Regions from separate parts of the Homo sapiens genome. Here region 1 is linked to region 2. Evidence: fine-mapped expression QTL. A gene starts in region 2. The other region holds a variant in brackets. All regions are shown on one strand. Distances are between the middles of the regions. Region 1 overlaps GABRP (gamma-aminobutyric acid type A receptor subunit pi). Region 2 holds the start of GABRP (gamma-aminobutyric acid type A receptor subunit pi).

What was found. PIP is the estimated chance that this variant, and not a neighbour inherited with it, causes the effect. A credible set is the group of variants that fine-mapping cannot tell apart.
Region 1: its variant is the best candidate, but not a certain one, in a credible set for the expression of GABRP in tibial nerve (GTEx, PIP 0.55).

Annotation. Positions count from the first base shown.
Region 1 is chr5:170,807,868-170,810,367 of GRCh38, reverse strand. GABRP (gamma-aminobutyric acid type A receptor subunit pi) reads right to left here. Exons shown (of 10, transcript NM_014211.3): 8 at 1,616-1,768; 9 at 613-800. Among named protein-coding and RNA genes, the nearest start is that of GABRP, 25 kb to the right of the region's middle. The variant C/G (reference allele first, on the strand shown) is at 1,523.
Region 2 is chr5:170,782,339-170,785,362 of GRCh38, reverse strand. It overlaps GABRP (gamma-aminobutyric acid type A receptor subunit pi), which reads right to left and starts at 1,638. Exons shown (of 10, transcript NM_014211.3): 1 at 1,489-1,638. It overlaps LOC107986475 (a long non-coding RNA gene), which reads left to right and starts at 2,307. Exons shown (of 2, transcript XR_001742978.3): 1 at 2,307-3,024.

The DNA.
Region 1 (2,500 bases), 25 kb before region 2:
CATTTAAAATAATATAGTATTTGCAAAAGGCTTGTTACTGTGTCTGGCACATGTAAATGCTTGATAAATAATGACTATTATTATTATTTAGAGAGCTGGACTATAGTGTTCCATTGCTAAACCAAATAATGACAGTTTTTCTCAATTAGCAGAAAAATATGCTCACCAAGAAATTTGTCACAATCTAATATTTCCATACATTTTTCAGTAAAGCATTACTTGTATAATTTAAGGACAAAATAATGCAACAAAAGAATTAAATAGTAAATATATATTAATATAAAACTTGCAAGCAGCTGATCATGTTTTTTTCATATTGGATTCTTCATGGATGCTTGCTCCTGTGGTTGTGATTTTATGCTGCATACAGATAACATATTTTCTGCTGGAAAATTAAACATATTAATATCTCATTGTATTTGGTGAAAAGAATGGTCTTTTTCAAGGGGCACCATGACTTCCAGCTGCTCCCACCTGAACAAGGATAAGACTCACTGGAGCACAGGGAATCACTGCGGGTGGGGTGGGGATAGAAGCCAGGTCCAGCCCATGTCTACAGATCAGCACACGGCACCAGTGATGGATCATACACAGGGCCCTCAAGACTCTTACCCTATCTTTGGCTGCCATCTGCTGTAAGGAACTGTAGTGAGCAACTGCATATTCTAGCAAGGCCCCAAACACAAAGCTAAAGCAGATCCCCAGGTACACATCGATGGCCTTGATGAAGCAGTTGGTGTTGGGAAGAGAAGTGCGGGACCCGATCATCAGTGTGGTCATTGATAACACGGTCGTCACTCCTGGGAAAACAGGCAGGGGATGTTCCTACAAAGTGACTGGTTAGTCCTCCACCATAGCCTGGCAGAGTGTCCCCATTTGAGAATTGGCAGGGTGAGGGCAAGACCCAGAAATGGAATGCATCTCATTTTGAAAAGTCTGCGACCTTCTAGAATAGGGTTGATTTGTCCATTTTGTACAGATATGAGGGATGTGTTTTTTTTTAATGTTTCACGTTCTGTCTTCTCCTGGGAGGGGGTGATAAATATGCAAAAGAACTGACAATAGACCATCTAAGCACAATGATCCCTTACTTGTCACTGTAAAACTTAAGTTTAAAAATGCACCACTCCTGGCAGGGCATAGTGGCTCACACCTGTAATCCCAGCACTTTGGGAGGCCAAGGTGGGCAGATCACTTGAGGTCAGGAGTTCAGGACCAGCCTGGGCAACGTGGTGAAACCCCATCTCTACTAAAAATACAAAAATAAGTTGGGCATCATGGCACATGCCTGTAGTCCCAGCTACCTGGGATGATAAGGCAGGAGAGTCACTTGAACCTGGAAGGCAGAGGTTGCAGTGAGCCGAGATCACGCCAGTCCACTCCAACCTGGGCAACAAGAGTGAAATTCTGTCTCCAAAAAAAAAACAACAACAAAAAACCCAGAATCCTAAAGTAGTCTCTTTCTGTCTCTCTCTTTCTTTCTCTGTAAAAGAATCTCCCAAGAAAACAACTCTTGGAACTG[C/G]CTTAGGAATATCAATGAAGACAATGGTAAAAGGAAAAAAAGTAAGTAACCTGATAAGCCAGTTCTTAGAAATCTCCTGTTGGAGCTGCTTACCAATGCAGGTTCTTGCAGGGACTGAATCGAGAGAGATCCAAAATGAAACCCAGGACAACACCACCAGGAAAGTGGAAGGAACGTAGGTTTCCAAAATGAAATACAGAACATTCCTCCGAAGCTCAAACTGTAAGACCAATCTAGTGTAATTTCCTGAAAGGGTAAACAACAGATAGGAAATTGTGTCTGTTCGTGTAGCAAGTGGTTTCTCTATGGGATGCTTAACTATATGTACATTAAGCCCTCTGTCATTGATCTAAATCTGGTTATGTATGAACTGTCATTATGATTTCCACAGGAGACACTGCTGTTGCATTGAATGGGATTTATAGGGGCGCTGTCCTGCCTTATGTCCAACCTGGGCTTTTCTGAATCACAGTATTCCTACAGCAGTGCAATCAATACTGGTTTTCTTGACGTCTGCCTCACTAGACAGTGAGTTCCTTGGGGGCAAACACTGAATCTTTCAGTTCTGCACTCACAAAGTAGTTGTTCAATAAATACCTGTTTAATGAAGATTACCTGTGACCATCTGTTTCTCAAGGAATACTATGGAATAGACCTAATGGACCTATTAAATATAAGTGAATTTTTGATGATTTCAGAGGCACCCCAGATTTTATACTACTTCAGGGCCATCCTTAGGGAATCTAGCAGTGTATTCTAGATGTGGGAAAGGCATGTGTTAGAGAGCTATCAGTAACAGAATTCTCTGTGGTAAATAGGCTACTGTAGCACAAAACATATATGTCCATGGGTTAGAGTCCCAAGCTCTGCTCCTGCTGTGCTTCTATTATGGGGAGGTGAGCAGTAGTGGCCAGCACTGGTGTGGATGCATGAATGAAGAGGTTATCCTCTGGGAACAGGAAAAGTCTGGCTTAGATT
Region 2 (3,024 bases):
AGATTTGCAAGGGGATTTGGCTGAGGTCACACAGTTAAGTGGCATGATTTAAATCTGTTTTCCAAGTCCCTTTTCTTTGCCCTGCATTTAGGAGGAGGGCCTTCAGCACCCCCAAGCTGAACTGGATTCCACTTGAATCTTGTCCTTTTTATACCAAACCCATCTGGGGGATGGAGTGTTGCATCCGCAGCACATCCCAAGTGACAAGTGCAGCTGATGCCATCACTCCCTGTGGTAGACGAGCCAATCGTTAAGTGGCTATTTATGTGTCGGCCAGCCTCAATGGAGGCTCAGGCCACCAGTTCTGGTACAGGTGCTGGGGGATGGAATTTAGTGGAGAGGTACTGAGCCACCAGAGAGCAGTGTCCTAAGGGTTGTCCCCAAAGCTGCAACACAGATGTTGACTGGAACCACCTAGCCTTCTGCATCTGCAGGGACATGGTGCTCAGGAGGCCCTAGGAGGCTCCTGAGTAGGGGCAGCCTATGCATTATCCTGCCCCGAGGGCATCTCTGGCCAAGCTCCTACCTCCACTTGTAGAGGAGACCTTGAGCTCTGGATCCTGATACACCCGAGTCATTTAACCTCTCAGAGTCTCAGTTTTCCCATCTGACAAATGGGAATAGAAAGCATTCAATAAACATTAGTTTTCATTCTCCTCTGCCTTCCGTGTCTTCCATGGGAATTCAGTGATTCCACTATGACTAATAGAACCCAAATCTCAAGCTCTTTCTATTTCTATATACACCCCAGGTGCCACTCAGAGTGTGAGCTAACTGGCACCACCTCAGGAAGTACAGGGTCAGGCACAGGGCATTAAGGTCACATAGGGAGCTGATGGCACCTTTTTCTAAACCAGAAATCCAGCCTAATGTCTCCCAGTCTCCCCCGCCTCTTCCTGGCTTGGCCTACTGGGCTTCTATACTCCGTGCTCTTGGCCTCTATGTCTCTTTTGAAAACTTCCCAGGCTGGAAGCAGAAATAATTCCAATATGTGCAAGTTTCTACTACCGTTTCTACTCTATTCCCAGAATTTCTACCATGTAAATACAGTGACCCCCAACCCCAACTTGTCACCTCCAGCTTCCTTCCTATGCAGGCACAGTTTTCCTATCCTTATCACTTCAGCATAGACAGAATCATTTGTTGGAAAGCAGGAGTAGAGCCCGAATTAGGTTAAGGTGAGGAAAGGCATTATTGCCATGGGTCCCGCTTAAGAAAATCCCAGAAGATAAAGTGGTGCGGCGCGTGCCCTGTGTCTGCTGGTCTTGGCCAGCTGCTGCACAGGGGTGAATGACTGTGGCTGTAGTGAGGACAGCAGGGGCTCTAATCTTGGCTCTGCTGCTCGTCCTGCAGTGGCGCTCCCTGATGCTCATTAGGTGTTCAGCAGAGTCCAGGCCTGCCCCCTCCCTCGGTCCCAGCAGGGCTTGTATTTGGATCTCCCTCCCTCCCCTCTCTCCAGACACCTGGAGGGGCCAGCAGTTTCCTTACCAGGTAGTTGTTGAGGCTCTGTTAGGGCAAGTCCTTCAGGCCTACAGGCAGGACTTCCAGGCAAGGCACGGTCTTCTGGGTCCCCAGGGTTCTCCTCATCCTCAGCCCTGTCCCCTCGTATGTGGACACGCAGCCACCCTCAGATGGAGTGGCTCTCTGGGGAAGAATGGAGCTGCTAAACCTGCTGTGCAGAAACAGAGGTGGGCGGAGCCTCTCAAAGCCCCATCCTTGGTGGGGACACTGACTTGTCCTGAGTGTCTGGAGATCGTCTGGTCCTGAGTTTCTGGAGATCGTCAGCTCCTGCTATAGCTACTGCCTCCAGGGGTTTGATTCTGAGATCATGTCTCAGTCATGCTCCCAGACCTCTGCCAGAAAAGACCCCTGAGATCAAGGACCCATGAGAGTCAGATAAAGTGGGTGACCCCCACCCACTATGCCGGGCTCTGAATTTGGTGGACAGCCCTCCACCCTGGTGCAATGGAATGGCTATAGTGGCCACTTCACCTCCTTAGGCCTCAGCTTCCCATCTATAAAATGAGAAGCTGACTGTGTGTAAAACTCCGATTTCTTGTTGTGTATTTTAAGAGCATCTTTGGGATCAACAGAAGGCCTATTCTATGTTAAAAGAGACTTTCATATCCCAGGACCTAGTGCTTTCCAGCCTGGGAAGTTTCAAAAAGACTCATAGAGGCCAAGAGCACAGAGGATAGAGGCCCAGGAGGAGGAGGCGGGGAGACACAGAGACACTGGGCTGGATTTCTCCAACCCTCCACCTTCCCCCATCCTGCTCTCACACAGAGGATTCTTTAACTTCCCACAGAGTCCTTTCAGGAGCATCCCAGAGAGGGAGGCCTTCTTCCTCCCTGGCCAACCAAACCTCCTAACAGAAGTGCTTCGACAGTGCTCACTGAGCTCTGGGTCATCCCCTCATCATAGCCAGTGGCCCCAAACTCACTCTTGGCTCCAGCCATGCAGGTAAGGGGAGGGATTCCTTGGAGGCTTGGCCTTGCACCCTGAGGGAGCTGGGAGCCAGGAGGGACTCAGATGGAGGGGCAGAGAGAGAGCTGAGGCTGTGGTACGAGGCCCAGAGGCATCTCCTTCCCTCCTGACATCATGGCGAAGCTCCTGCCTAGACCCAGTCTAGGAGCCGGGAAGGGAGAGAGAGAAAGGAAGGGGAGCAAATGGAGGGGCAGGAAGGGGAGGGCCACAGTGTACAATGAACCATAGATGCCTTTGGCCCCAAGCCAACTTCCTTAGTGAGCTTCTGGAGCCTGGCCAGCCTGGAAAACATTGCTCCGCTGGTGGGTAAGGAGTGGGCACCTAAAGAGACAGCGCTTTCATTTCTCCTGAGAGGACTCACTTTCACTTGGGAACCTTGCTGGTGGCTAGAGCAGGAATGGCTGAGGAGCCGGTTTCAGGTTCTCAATGAATAGACAGTGATCTGGGGCTTTTCTCAAAAAGCCTAAGATATTCTCACACAGAACAAAGGCTCCAGAGTAATAAAGACAATTCAGAGCTGGGAGGTGGGGGTGGGAG